Linked DNA regions of Homo sapiens: region 2 is reported to be linked to region 1. Evidence: microRNA targets listed by miRTarBase, many of them from high-throughput screens and not tested one by one. Region 1 holds a microRNA gene; the other region holds the end of a gene's coding sequence. Distances are between the middles of the regions.

Region 1 (7,778 bases):
GCCCCGTAGGCACAGGGCGAGGACTGGCACTCGTCGATGTCTGCAGGGAGAGCCACCGCTGCTCAGTGCAGTGAGGCCAACGCCCACCGCAGGACCGGCATGGCCTAGGGCAGCGGGGAGCCAGTGGCACACAGGCGCAAGCCCCAGGACAATGAGGAGCAGCCCCTGCCCCCGAGCCCAAGCTGCTGCCTGCCTGAGGCCTTCCTGAGCCCAGCCTGACCCTGGCCCAACAGCACCCTCCTCCGTCTGCTTCTGCAGTGGGCCTGTCCCATCCTGGATTAGCCCCAGCTGCTGCGTCGGACCAGCCAAGGGGTGCTGGACAGACAGCTGGGCCAACACCCAGGGACAACAGCCCTGCGGCCACAGAGGAGCCCACGTCAGGCTGCACGCTCCAACCCCCACAGCTCCCTGGGCCCCGGACTGGTCCCCCAGGCTGGGGCTCCCCACTTAATCACTTGGCAGGGTATACAGCAGGAACCCCACAGGGCACAGACATGTGGGGAAACTGAGGCTCAGAAGAGAGGCAGGAAGTAGTTGTGGCCACACTGCCCTTCAAGGGACGTGGACGTTGATGTCCCCAGACTCCTGACACCGCGGCTGGGCTGAGGGGCTCCCAGGGCTGGGGCTGTCTGGCCACTCACTGATGCGGCAGTCAGGCCCCGCGAAGCCAGGTGCACACTCGCAGCGGAACCAGTTGACGCCGTCAACACAGATGCCACCATTGTAGCTGCAGAGCAGAGGGTGGGCATCAGGTGGCCCCCCGTGGTATGCCAAGTCCCACCCACCCCTGCTGTGGCCCCCAGGGTGCCACTCACCAAGGCAGAGGGTTGCAGTCGTTGGTATCTGGTTTGGGAGAAGAGAACGCAGGGGATCAGTACCCACCCCCCAAGCGTGCCAGGCACTGTCCAGGCTGGCTTGGCGTGATCAGGCTGTGGGGCTGGGGAGGGTCATCAAGGAGGGTGCCTTTTGCTGGGGGCAGGGGCAGCAGGGGGAGGGGCTGGCAGAAGGGACTGGGGGGCGAGTCGGGGGCAGGGATGTCATCTGGGTGGAGGAAAGCGGCCCCCGCCCACACCCCTCCCACACTCACTGTGAGTGCAAGTACGACCCTCCCAGCCGTCCCGGCAGATGCAGGAGAAGGAGGCCCCGCTGCCCACGCAGGTGCCACCATTCACACAGGGGTTGGGCAGGCAGCTGCTGTTCTTGGCTGTAAGGAGAGGAGGAGGAGGGAGCGTCTCACCTGGCCCTGGGCTGGCCCTGGGTCTCCATACCGCGCCCCCAACCCAGACAGGGCAGACAGACCCGGGGGCAGGGGGCAGGGGGCAGGTGGCAGGTGTGGCCCTCAAAAAAGACCCCTCGGCCCATCGCGCCCGAGGGAGCGGTGCCTGGGAGGGCATATGCCCGGCGGTCGCAGAGGCAGCGGGGGCTCCTCACCGACGGCGCAGGTGCTGCCCTTCCAGCCGGGGGGGCAGGCGCAGCGGAAGGTGTCGCCGCTGTCGTAGCAGGTGCCACCGTTGCTGCAGGTGTAGGCATCGCACTGGAACTCGCCTGTTGGCACATGGGCCGCTCAGCAGGCAGGCCCCAGACCGCCAGGGCCAGGGTCCTGGGGGCAGCCCCAGGCGGCCAGGGCCTGCGGACACTCACGTGAGTGGCAGGTCTTGCCCTTCCAGCCGTCGTCGCACGCACAGTAGAAGTCATTGACCAGGTCGTAGCAGCGGCCGCGGCTGTGGCAGGGATCGGGAAGGCAGTCGTTGGGATCTGGGGGCGAGGACGCCGGTCAGCGGGCGGGGGGTCACCGGCGCTCAGGGAGGGCTTCCCGGGGGAGGAAGCACTGGAGCTGGGCCAGGTGAGGACAGAGAGGGGCGGGGGAGGAGCGTCGGGCCGGGGGAGCTGGCCTCGGGCATGGGGGCAGCCTGGGACTCCACCCCATGGTGGCAGCACCCCCTGGCCAGGCCTTTCTGGGTACGGGGCCTGCCGCACCCAGACAGCGGTCCATCTCAGGGTGATAAGGGGCCCACAGGGGTGGAGGCACAGGCCGTGTGGGCGGGTGCTGGAACACTCACTGGTGTCGCAGAGCTCGCCCTCCCAGCCGCTGGGGCAGAAGCAGCGGAAGGCGTCCACCTCATCGATGCATGTGCCCCCATTGCGGCAGGGCTGGCCCAGGCAGTCGTCAATGTCTGCAGAGGCGAGCGGGGTGAGCCAGGGCCTCAGGCCAGCCCAGCCCCACCACCAGCCCGCCGTTCGTGGCCACTCACTCTCATGGCAGTAGGTGCCAGTAAAGCCACTGTCACAGATGCAGGAAAAGTTGCCCCCTGGCTGGCTGACGCAGCGTCCATGGGGGCCACACACGCCGGAGGCTGCTGTGCCAGGCATCCCAGGCCCCGCGTCTGACCCGCAGCCATCGATCACTATGGCAGGCAGTACAGTCAGGAGTCAGGCCCGCCCCTGCCCCACCACCTCCCCCACCACCCCATGCCGCACCCAGCACCTCTGCAGGCCCCGCCAGGGCACGGCTCGCGGGGCACGGAGCAGTTCTTGCCACCAAAGTCATCAGGGCAGGCGCAGTAATAGTCACCCTCCAGGTTATAGCAGCGAGCGCCGTTCCGGCAGGGGCTTGGCTCACAAAGGTCGACATCCACCTGCAGGGTGGGGGGTGCCTGTGAGAGCCTAGGCCCAGGCCCAGGCCGGGAACACAGGCCAGGCCTCTGTCCATACGAAGGTAGATCCCTGGGGACCCCCAGGCCCCTCCGCCCTGGGCCTAACAGTGCCAGCCAGAGCCCAAGACCCCTGCCCACCTGAGACTGCCCAGGCCTTAGCTGAACGCAGATACCTGTGGGCCCCCACCCCCACCTCCACTGCAGCCCAGCTTCCTCACTGTCCCTCGGGAGGAGTGTGGCCTTGGCCCCTGCTGCTGGCAGGAAGGACAGCTCCTGAGCCCCTCACACACTGCCTGGCCACCCTCAGAGCCAAGACTGTGGGTCTTTTCCAGGGCCAGCCACTGCCATGCTTGCAGGTCCTGAGGTCAGACCCCTGCCCTGGGCCCCAAGAAGCCCTCTGGACAGGAGGCCCATCCTCTGCACCAAGGCCAGGGCAGGATCGTGGGCGGCCGAGGGTGGTAGGGAGGTGGGTGGGGGGAGGCAGGGAAAAAGGGGAAGTAAGGGGAGGGGGTGGTAGGGAGGCAGGTAATGGGGAGGCAGGGTTGGGGGAGGTGGGGAAGGGGGTGGTAGGGAGGTGGGTGGGGGGAGGCAGGGTTGGGGGAGGTGGGGAAGGGGGTGGTAGGGAGGTGGGTGGGGGGAGGCAGGGTTGGGGGAGGTAGGGGAGGGGTGATAGTGAGGTGGGTGGGGGGAGGCAGGGTTGGGGGAGGTGGGGAAGGGGGAGGTGGGGAAGGGGGTGGTAGGGGTGGTGGGGAAGGGGGAAGGCAGGTTACTTTGGAGGCAGGGGGGAAGGGGAGGTTGGGGGAGGGGGTCCAGTACCAACAGATGGTCAGAGGGAGGCGAGAGCATCAGCCCTGAGAGAGATGCCCACTCCGACCCAGGACTCACCTATGACAGGTGTATACCTCTCCACCATCAGGCACCCACCCTACCCCATGTGCTCTGCCCACCAGAGCCCCCTGCCCTCCAGTCCCGAGGGAGTGCACAGATGGACAGATAGGCCTGGGCAGCCAGCAGCCCGGGGGCTCCTAGCCCAGGCCACCAGGAAACCCATCACAACAAGCAATGGCCACAGGGGGCCAAGCCTGGTGACCTGTGACAGCCCCGCCTGCCCACCTGGCACCCAGTGGAGAGCTGAGCCTGGGACGCCTTGGGGACAACTTCCCCTGCAGCACCCCTGGGTCACTCAGGCCCCATGGTCAGGGGACGAGGCCTGCCCTACAGCTCCCAGAGCAGCAGGTGGGGCAGGGTGACCAGGCAGACCTCACCTCACAGAGAGGCCCGGAGAAGCCCTGGGGGCAGTGGCAGTGGAAGCCGTCGGCCAGGTCCTCGCAGAGGCCGCCGCTGTGGCAGGGGCTGCTGGCACACTCGTCTCGTTCCAGCTCGCAATGCCGGCCTCCGAAGCCCCGTGGGCACACACACTGGTACCCGTTCACCAGGTCCTGGGCGGGCCAGCCAGGTGAGCGTCCCGCAGGCACCCTGACGGCCCCGCAGCACCCACGCCACACACCCTCCTGGCCCCGCCTCACCTTGCAGGTGCCCCCATGCTGACACTGCCCGCGACAGTCGTTGACGTCTGGGGGCAGAGGAGCAGGGTCAGAGGCGGGGTCCCATGTGCCTCGGCCCACCCGCCGGCGCCCACCCCCCATACTGACTGATATGGCAGTTGATGCCCTTCCAGCCCGGGATGCAATCACAGTAATAGCCGCCAATCAGGTTTTTGCAAGAAAAAGCGTTAAGGCATGGCTTCCCTTCACACTCATTGGCGTCTGTGAAAGAGACAAGGTGGGAGCCGTGGGGCTCGGGCCCTGCCTGCCCCCTGCAGCACGGGCACCTGGCACCCGCAGCCCAGCAGCCCCAGCAGCCCCAGCAGCCCCCGCAGCCCCAGCAGCCCCCGCAGCCCGCATGCGCGGCCCACGTTCCCATGCACTCGCTCGGAGCCCTTACCCAGCTGGCAGGTGGCCCCCACCCACTGCTCGGGGCAGATGCACTCAAAGCCGTCCACCTGGTCCACACAGGTGCCACCGGCCGCACACGGGTTCGAAGCACACTCATCGATGTCTGCAGAGGGTGGAGAAAGGTGGGGCCCTGGCAGTGTGAGCCGTGGGAATAAGGTCCCCATGGGCAGGTGGCGCTGCAAGCCTGGGTCTTCCTGCCATTTGTCCTCGCCAAGCCAGCCGCAGCCACACGTGTGGACTTGACCACTGCACCCCATCCCCAGCGAGTTGCCCCACTCCCAGACCCCCACTGATACTAGGCAGGAGTCCCCTACTCACGTGCAGACACTCACCAAGGGCACAGGTGGGCCCGCTCCAGCCCGATGGGCAGTGGCATTCGAAGCCGGACGGCACCTCATGGCAAGAGCCCCCGTTGGCACACGGGTTGGAGGTGCAGGCGTGCTCAGCTGTAGAACCGCGGGGAGGGGGCAGAGCTGGCAGCCAGGCCCCCAGCTTTCCACAAGCACTCCTCCCCAAGCCCACAGGTTCCCAAGCTGGGGGTCAGGGGCCCACCACACAGGACGCCAGAGGGATGGGGCCTGACCGGCTCCCCAGGGAACCAGTCCCTGCCTGGCCAGAATTTGGGTGGCCAGCCCCCCACGTACCCTTCTCACAGTTCCTGCCCGAGTAGCCGTCAGGGCAGGTGCAGCGGTACTGGTCAGGCTCGGCGTTGATGCACGTGCCTCCGTTGGTGCAGGGGTGGTGGCTGCCACAGTAGTTCAGGTCTGGGGGCAGGGGTGGGATGCTCAGGGGAAAAGCCGGCCCCCCGCTCCCCCACAACCCACACTTCGATGGCAGAGCATTAGGCCTGCCGCCCCCTACCACTACCTTTGTCACAGAGCAGGCCGCCCCAGTTGGTCTCACAGTTGCACTGCCAGGGCTCCACACAACTGCCATGCACGCAGCCGGGGTAGGGGACACACTCATCGCAGAACCTCCCTTGCCAGCCGTAGCTGCACCTGGGGGAAGGAGGAGGGGCGCAAGACCCAGTGAGCTGTGGTGCCTGAAAGGGTGGCAGGGGAGCCAGGCACAGTCACCCACGCCACACCCAGGGCCGGCGGGCGGCCTCAGGCCTTTGAACTGGAGCAGCCCCAGCCAGGCAGGGGTTGCAGCCCTGCCGGCCAGCCCCACTGTCACGGGCATTCCCGGCCGCTGGCTGCCGACGGTCAGCCCCAGCTGTCCCGTCACTCCTCCCTGAGCTATTTTGGGATTCACCCGTGAGCTGGGCCCCGAGAGCAGGCACCAGGAAAGGAAGGCCCTGCCGGGACCCCGGGGATGAGAATGCCGGCTCGGACTCACAAGGTGCTGCCAGGGCCGGGAGGCACCAGGGGCTGGGTAGGCCAGCGGGCAGCAGGGGAGCACTCCTGGCTCTGCCTCGGCCATGTGGCCCTGGGCACAGCACGTGCCCTCGCCCCCACCTCAAAGGCAGTCATTTCGCTCGCTCCCAGTAAAGTCCCACAAGGTACCCATCTCACAGATGGGGCTACTGAGGCCCACAGGCTGGCCTGGGCCAGCCCTGCCCAGGGTAGTTCCTGATTCTGCAGGAGCTCCAGCTGCACCCCCAGCTGCACCCCCCAGGACACAACCACCAGGACTCGCCCTGCCCCAGGCTATCGGCCAACGTCCTGTCTTGGGAGTCCCCCAGGAGAGGGCAGGTGGCCAGGGTAGAACATGGCCTGACTTGAGGGTGCCTCCGTCAGGGGAGAGAGCCTGCAACGACCCCAAGGCTCAGCAGGCTGCCATCCAGGCCCTGCCGGGACTCCCGGGGGGCCCTTCCTAGAACTCTCCGGTCCTGCAGGACGGGAATGTCATCCAGGCCACGTCACTTCCACACCGGCACCCGCCACACTTTATTTTTGTAAAAGGAAAGAACCACGGCCCTTCCTGAGCCGCCCTCAAGCCACACAGCCAGCACCGAAGGCCTATCAGCCCAGTTCAGCTGCCACAAATGGGGAAACTGAGGCCGGGAAGAACGTGTCTCCAGTATCCAGCCCAGCATGCACAGTGGTCCGCGTGGGTGGCCTCACATCCCGCCTAGAATCCCTCCTCCACAGACACAGAGACCCAGGCTCAGGGCGGGGCTGTGACACACCTTGGGTCATCGGCCAGAGAGCGGCCACAGCCGGGCTCAGAGCCCAGACCTCGTGGGTCCCAAGGGCGTGCTCTCGACCCTGGGCAGGGCAGCCCACACCAGGCCCCCACCTCCTGGTTTCCCCAGCCAGCAGCCCCAGGGCCCTGGAGAGGCGGCGGCAGGAAGGCATGGCCATCTCCGCAGCATCCGGTGGGGGGGCGTCCTGCACTGGAACCTGAGCCGAGGCTGTCAGCAACAGCTGGGCCTCCCCGACAGGGCCAGCAAGAGGGGCAGGCGGAGCTCACCTACTGCCCCCACCCACCAGGCCCCCCAGACTCCGGCTCATCTTCCTGCGGGTAAAGGGCAGGGATGGCCAACTTCTCTGCTGCCTTCCTCCAGCCTTGGTGTGACATTCAAGCTGCCAGCCAGCAGCCATCCAGGGAGGGTGGCACTGCCATCCAGGTTGTGTGATGCACACTGGGCCAGGCGAGGGTGAGTGGGGCCGACTCCCGTAGATCTACATCTACATCTGCCCAGACCAGGTCCACCTTGTTGCACTTTCTGAGCTGACTTGGGACTCGCTCAACCTGCCGGGAATCCCTGTGTGTGCAAGTGACCGGGTGGGCGGCCCCAGCCCTGCTTGCCTCCCCGCTCTGGGACTGGCCGGGAAAGCTCCTCACTGTACCCTCCAGGCCACTCAACCGTGGGGCCTGTGGAAGGGTCACCCACCTCCCCACCTTGGCTCCCAACTCAGCTGGTTCCCAAACTCCCCGACTCCTCTCCAAAACGCCACGCTGTGTGACCCTGGGGAAATCAGTAGGCTCTCTGTGCCCCAGTGTCCTCGTCCCATGGAGGCAAACCCACTCCACAGAGGGAGGTCCTGGGACCCCTGCAATCCAAGGCTGGCTGGAGGGCGGTGCTCACCTCCACCTGCTGTCTCTCCACCCGCTCGCGCCCCTCTCTCGGGCTCCCCAGCTTGCTCACGCACAGTGAGCGCCACGGCTCGAAGCCCGTGCCCACCCCAGACCCTGGGCCCCAGCCCCTCTGGTTGCCCTGCTG
Region 2 (7,313 bases), 50 Mb from region 1:
TTTTGCTAAGGTGGTCAAAGTTCTGTAAGGAGGACACATTTTTCTTTTGCAGATGATTTTGCTAAAAAAAAAAAAAATTCAGAGAAAGCATCTAATGACTTTGAAAGAACACCAGAATAAACATAATGGATTTTACATTCTGATAGTTACACAAACTCCTCACCAGTTTAGAGTTACACCTTCTACCATTAGGAAGTACATAAAGTCAGCCTACATGCAGGAGACAAAGATTTTCATTCTGCCATGAAAGTAAAGAATTTCATTAAATATCTCTGATGATAGCAGCTGCCTGGCTTACTTGGGAGCAGAGGTGAAGGTAAATGTTTCCTTAATTATTTTGTGATGTTTGAATTTTGTGCTAACCACAGAATTACCAGTTTTTATTTATTTTTTTTAATTTGAGCATTTAAGACAGTGTGATTACATGGAACTACAAGGTGACCATCTCACACTCCTATAATCACTCCCAGCAGCACCTTTGAGTTCAAAGGGCAAAGGTGATAGTATACATCTTCAAATATGTGGGGGCACAGAGTGACAGAGGGCACCTGGAAAAGATTAACCAGCTACAATGGGAGCCAGAGGTAACCTAAGGGGCTGGGCCCACTGGTTAACAGAAAGGTCAACAGAAGCAGAGTCCAGGGAGCAACATCACCTCTTTAACCCAGTGTGGGTGACGCACATCATTTGACCCTCCCTGACACCCAACTCACTTATAAAATGGAAATACTCAATTAGCTGGGCACTGTAGCATGTGTCTATAGTCCCAGCTACTTGGGGGGCTGAGGCAGGAGGATCGCTTGAGCCAGGGAGGTAGAGGTTGCAGTGAGCTGTGTTCATGCCACTGCACTCCAGGCTGAGCAACAACAGAGCAAGATACTGCCTCAAAAAAAAAAAAAAAAAAAAAAAAAAAAAAAGAAAGAAAGAAAAAATATATATTCTTCCTTATAACAAGTCTTCCAGATTCGGTGTTGGGTACACACACACACATACATACACACACACACAGAAAATCTGGAAGATTTGTTTTCCATCCCCCAAACACTAAAATGCAGGAAACAAATTATGAGTTCTCAGAGCTCAGGGTTTCATGTTGATTTTAATGTCCTGTTTTGTGTGTGTTCTAGTTAAAAAGACAATGAGAATTCATTGTTGGCTTGTCTATACTTCAAGTGCACGTGATACTTTTTATTCATAATTATTTTTTAAATATATTAAATTTATATGGAAATTCTGTTAGAGTCAAGTGCTGACTCCACCAACCCCTTCATTAAGAGGTGATTCTGACAACTGTTAAGCAAGAGAAGGTCAGCTAAGATTTGGATAAGACTTCAAATACTCCTTGATCACATGCAAATCAACTTTCAGAAATGAGACTTCAGGCAAGAAATTTTGCTCTGAGATTAGTTGTCTTGGGCCGGGCACAGTGGCTCAGCACTTTGAGCTGAGTGTAGTCTTAGCACTTTGGGAGGCCAAGGCGGGTGGATCACTTGAGGTCAGGAGTTCGAGACCAGCCTGACCAACAGGGTGAAACCCTGTCTCTACTAAAAATACAAAAATTAGCTGGGCGTGGTGGAGGGCATCTTTAATCCACTACTCGGGAGGCTGAGGCAGGAGAATTGCTTGAACCAGGAGGTGAAGGTTGCAGTGAGCCAAGATCATGCCACCGTACTCCAGCCTGGGCGACAGAGCGAGACTCTGTCTCCAAAAAAAAAAAAAGAGAGAGCAAAAGAAAGATTAGTTGTCTCTAATTGGTTAAAGGTACTTGAAAGTTCAAAGGTACAAACTGAAACAGTCAGGTTGCTTCCTCTCTCTGGTTAGACTTGTTCAATCTGCAAATGGAAATTCCTTTAAAATTTCCCAAATTGAGAGGAGCGGAAGCCACTGTGTGGGCCCACAAGAGACTGTCATCTGTCCAGATACAGACGTCAAAGGCCGTTCTTCCCAAGCAATCAGGAACGCAGTTGAGGCTGGCAGCAGTGAAGCCAAAGAGAGACAGAGACCAAAACCCACCTCCAGCCAAAACTGGTTGAGCAGCTGCTAGGAGACCAATGACCAGATGACCAATACGGACCAATAATTCTGAGGTCCCTGATAGAACCAGAATGGTTTTAAGCTGATTTTTATTTACTAGCTTTTTTTTTTAATTCGGTTTATCCCCCTTGGTTTTAGAAGTAAAATGTCCTTGCAAAGAGAAAAGTTTCCATAAAGAATTTTGTCAGTCTAGATAGAATGACTGTAAAAATTATCACTACACATATAATGGGAAACTCCACAAAAAAACAAATTAGAAAAAAAGAAATCTCATTTATTTGTTCAGTACATTTTTGAATGTGAAAGGATCCAGGAAAAGGAGGAAGAATAAAAAATGCATTCTAAAATCAGGGAAAATCAATAGCCTGAGAGGAAGTTGTACATACACACACCCAGGCATTTCATCACAGGACTCCCTCCACACAACCTTCCCAATGCTCACCGGCAGCCAAACCACATTTCTCTGGGCAGCACAGTCAGTTCCAGATTGAAAGGATTTCTCAAAAGGTCAGAGTTGTGGACATATTGCTCAAAACAAACAGGAGAATGTAGAAATAAGAGGAAAAGTGGATAGGTGCATTAGGGCTGTGTAATGCAGGTGCCAGGAGTTATCCTACCAGGACCCACAAGCAAGTCATAGCTGCACTGCTAGGGAGGGAATAAAGGGAGCTGCTTAAATGCAAGACGCAGTGTGTCTTCCTTCACCACCCTTTGTCGGCCAGAGCCTGATATTCATACTCAGGATGTCATGAAAATGTAATTGATGAGGTCGAGGAGCCGGGGGGAAGAAACCCAAGTACTCCTACTGTCCAACCCAATGGAATTCCCCATGGGTAGGCCCTCAAAGTGATGCCAATTACTGTGAGATTCATTGTTTTCACTTCTGTAATAACCTTTCCACCTTAACCAAAATCTTGGCAGCCAAGGAATCCACCAAGCTGAAGCCAAAGGCAGCATGTTTTAAAATGGAAGCCTTGCCCAAAAAGGACACACTCAGAAAAAAGCAATGAATTCTATTCTGTACCTGGGGAATGGCTCTAAGTTACAAAGCCAAGGAGAGCTATGTTCCAGTTAAAAGCCAGACAGAACCAGACCAAGCTAGGCTGCCCAGGAGTAGGGGTTTAGGGACGTGGAGAAGTGTTGTGGCAAAGAACCCTTCTTTTCCCTGTTTAGCTGGAGTTTGACCTCATTTGGACAGCCACAGACATTCCAGCAACCAGACAGTTCCTGGAATAAACACGGGGCTTCTCCAAAACAAGTGACCAGATAAATTTTAAGGAAAACAGAGGAGGGAGTGGAAAGAGAACATATAAGATTCTTAAGAGACTTAAATCAACCTGTTGCAATGTGTGGATCTCGTTTGTACCTTGATTCAAATAAACTACTAAAAACTACACAACAGTAGGGGAAAATCTAGATATTTGAATTGACACTAATTTTTAGTGTGATAATGGATGTATTTGATCATATATTTCTTTACCTGATTCCACTTTATTTAGATAATCTGAAATATTTATGGATGAAATAATGCCTGGGATTTGCTTTGCAATAATCTGGTCAGATGGGTATAGAGGAAAACAAGATGGCGCCATTGAGTTGAGACTTCTTGAAGCTGGGTGATTAGTACACAGGGGTTCATGTGCTCATCTCTCTACTGATGTGCATGTTTCATTTTCTGTAACAAAAATTAAAAGAAGGCAAGGGCCTCTGGGAGGGTGAGGAGTCAGGTACTCACACTTCCCCTTGATCTCTTGAGACTTCTTCTTCTCTCCATCAGCAGGAGGACCCATGCCTGTGATGATGAATCCAGGTGCTCTGTTTTGACAGAAAGGCTTCTTGAAAACCTTTCATGTCTGCAACTGCTCTTCCACTAAGTGAAAAGGAACTTGGCCAATCAATCTTCGGTGACAAAACTCAGAAGCAGCAACTCGGGCTTAGCTGAGCAGCTCATCGTTTTATTGACACCTATGAGTGGTGGTTCTAGGAATGTTTTATGCCAGTAAGCATTCCTACTTTGATAAGATTTGCTACCCAACGGTCCACAGGGTCCCACAAGGAGCAGCAGGCCCCAGTACTTGGACATGCTGGCCACCAGTGAGGGCAGGGGCGGCCTCTGCCTGTGGGCAGCACGGAATGGGGAGGAGACCATTAGCAAGAGGGAAAGGAGGTTGTTGGGCATGGGACAGAAGAGCAGCACAAAACCCCTTGCACTAACTGGAAGTTTTGCCCTGGGCAGGCTCTTCCTAGAAGAGGGAAGGAAACCCTTTTCCACTCCCTGCCCCAGCCTACTCTTCCTTCCCCAACAGCTCCCACGTAGGAAACAGTGCCAGTTCCCAGGGGGCTGAAGTTACCTACTAAGCATTAAGACAACAGGGACATGAGGGCCACTCAGATTCCTGACTCTTATCCCAGACCTCCTCCTCCCATTACCTCAAGACAGTGAGGACGGTAAGACTCCAACCAAATACCAAGGAGAAACTGTCAGAACCTGGGGTTACTTCGTACTATAATGGAGATTAGTATTCAAATAGCTTTGATGGCTGGGAGAAGCCCTTATGATGTCTTTGCTGAAACAGAATACAGCCAAAATAATCAAGTTATTTAAATATTTATAGTGGTGGTTGAAAAAGAAACAACTTTCACAAGAACAAAGTTACAATAGTTTAATAATTTAAATAGGACCACCTTCAGGAACATACATACTCATACATAAAATTAAACAATTTAATTTTGAACAGTGTATTGAAATACATCAAATTCTTAAAAATCCCCCAAATGGACTCAAGATCATGGATATGAAAAGGTAATTTTGAAGTACTAAAGACTAGAGTAAAACAGACAAAGTCATTACTTTGCATTTACTAATAAGACAACAGCCTGTGGATACATTAGACCTTTATAAGAACACTTCTAGGAAATGTTAGAACAACGAGTCATTAAAAAGGAATATAAATGAGTTCATAAAGATAAATGTATAGCTGACAATTTCTTTGGTCCTCGAAGTCACACTTGTTTTTACTTTAAAATGCCAAACATGAGTTGAGTGCTCAGAATTCTACCTATAAATGTCTAAATATTAAGCAGGCTAATGTTTATACTGGGCTAGATTTAAAAAGGTACTCAAGCCAACCATCACTGTACTTAAACTCCAGAAAGAAAAAGCTAGGAAACAGAAGTAGAGAGGAATGGAAAAAAACAAAAAAACCCAATACCTCTGCCATCTTGCCCCATCATAACCCAAATAGCATCAAAGTGGCAGAGATGGGACTAAAGTTAAAGCAAGCATCAAAGTTATTACTTTTAGGGTAATGGGATGAATTTGAAGAGCACTATGTCAACCAAATACTAAACTTCATGGAATAACTGTGTTTGTGTTTCTGTGGAGGAGTTGCGGTTTTGTTTGTTTTAATTTGGCCCACGCTGCCCCAATGGAGGAAATTTTAAGATAATCATTAATAAGGCAACAGCTTCCAGGATTAAAATACCTATACCATCTATACGGAGTTACAATGAGGACAAGACCCACATAGACCACAAAGGAAACCGGGACCAGAAGCTTCCAGTGCATTTTCACAGATCGTTGGTACGATACGCTTTGGTTAAAACGTTGGACACAGCTCATAATGTCTTCCACCGTCAGTTCATTCTGTGCTCGTTCAGGTGCGTGGAAGCTATGGTTCTGCAGACCTGAAAATGATGGGCACTCTCAAATGTTTCTGGAAATACTTAGAAAAATATCTTATAAGATTAAAAAAAAGAAGAAGAAGAAACATTTTGAGGCATCTACATGGATCACACAAAGGAAACTCAATAAACCTATAAAGTTAAAACTGAGCTGACTAGTTATTTGCAGTGTGAGTACTAAGTCTCATAAAATAATGGCTTTTTTAAAAAGGCAAAAGTATCTACACTCTAAATGATATTCTTATCAAGGCACAGAGAGTTAAATGTCTAAATCCCTGTATGTTGACACGAGAATACACTCGTAAACAACACCAGGAACTAATTCCCTATTCTTGAATTTAAAAACAATAGAAGGTAGAAATGTGCCTTTTTAACTCACAGTAAAATCAAAAACATAGACATTCCACCACCTTCCCTTGGTGACTAACATTACGACTGCTAAAAATATATTTTTAAATGTCACTGGTGGTTTAATAAACATGACCAAAGTGAAGTCTGTTGAACTTGAATTCACAGAGCAATACCGCACTAAATATTTTAGCACTTTCGGCACTACACCACTTTTATTGGAGGAAGAAAAAAAACAGTATACTGGGCACAGTTCCCTCTCATTCCCAATGCTCCTATGCTTATGAGGCAAATTACTGTACTATTTGAAAAAAATACACTAATTCTTCTCCCTTCCCAGGCCCCTCTGGTTATCTGGCAGTGGTTTTGTGCACGTACTTACACTATTAGCAGTTCACTTTAATATTGCCACAAAAAGGTGGCAAGAAGAAAGTAGAGGGCTCAACCCTTTATTATATTTATTTGACTTCCTAGAAATAATTTTAAATATAATTAGTGACAAGGAATAAAGTTCACATCTGTAACAATTGAAAATGGAATGTACAAACAAGACCGGACAGACAGACAATGCTACTGGCAGTACGATCGGCAACCAACGCACACACACTGAATGAAGCTCAGCTCCTAATGAGAGTCAGGAACTCTTCCCGAGTCTTTGGATCCTCCCGGAACACACCCAACATTGTGCTGGTCACAGTTTTGCTGTTCATTTTCTGTACACCTCGCATTACCATACACATGTGTCTACAAAATAAGGCAACACAGGTTGTTTAAAGGAGTAGACAGCTGCTGGTTTGGTTTTTAAAAGCAGGCCTAAAGATTAAATCTCAGCTCACAGTTACCAAGTATATCGAAATATCCCTTCTTACACAAATGTTATCTATTAGGTTCATGCAAAAGTAACTGCGGTTCTTGCTATTGAACATAATGGCAAAAACTGCAATTATCTTTGCAGCAACCTAAACTTTTTGTTCTTGAAGTTGTCTTGCAACTTTTATTTTTATCAGTAGTTGATCCTTAAAGCATCCAAAAAGGGGAAAAATGGAATTTTCTTCTGGGGTGAAAGTAATATAAAAGGTCTACAGAGTTACTTAACTTCTAGATCAAAAGAAAGTCAGAATTCTCACTTGCTCTGCCTTCAGGACCAAGACAGCACTATGCTAGCCTAGGTGTTCAGATAAATGCTCAAGTATACTGATGTCACCAGGCAGAATTCAGATAATGGTGACCAGAGATCCTGTCTGAGC

What was found. The annotated mature microRNA hsa-miR-6765-5p reads GUGAGGCGGGGCCAGGAGGGUGUGU and lies in region 1 at 4,156-4,180, opposite strand. An mRNA with a match to its seed (bases 2 to 7 or 8) in the 3' UTR can be bound and repressed. Matches are read on the target gene's strand: a 7mer-m8 pairs with bases 2 to 8, a 7mer-A1 pairs with bases 2 to 7 and ends in A, and an 8mer does both.
Region 2: the mRNA of GCH1 is a reported target of hsa-miR-6765-5p. Seed matches in the 3' UTR shown: 7mer-A1 at 5,809-5,815.

Annotation. Positions count from the first base shown.
Region 1 is chr14:105,146,685-105,154,462 of GRCh38, forward strand. It overlaps MIR6765 (microRNA 6765), which reads right to left and starts at 4,180; the gene lies at 4,094-4,180. It overlaps JAG2 (jagged canonical Notch ligand 2), which reads right to left. Exons shown (of 26, transcript NM_002226.5): 6 at 5,477-5,607; 7 at 5,254-5,373; 8 at 4,942-5,055; 9 at 4,599-4,712; 10 at 4,307-4,420; 11 at 4,181-4,227; 12 at 3,920-4,093; 13 at 2,486-2,636; 14 at 2,253-2,405; 15 at 2,061-2,174; 16 at 1,642-1,755; 17 at 1,432-1,545; 18 at 1,088-1,204; 19 at 816-843; 2 more.
Region 2 is chr14:54,837,334-54,844,646 of GRCh38, forward strand. It overlaps GCH1 (GTP cyclohydrolase 1), which reads right to left. Exons shown (of 6, transcript NM_000161.3): 6 at 4,684-6,810. The coding sequence ends at 6,684. Among named protein-coding and RNA genes, the nearest start is that of MIR4308, 37 kb to the right of the region's middle.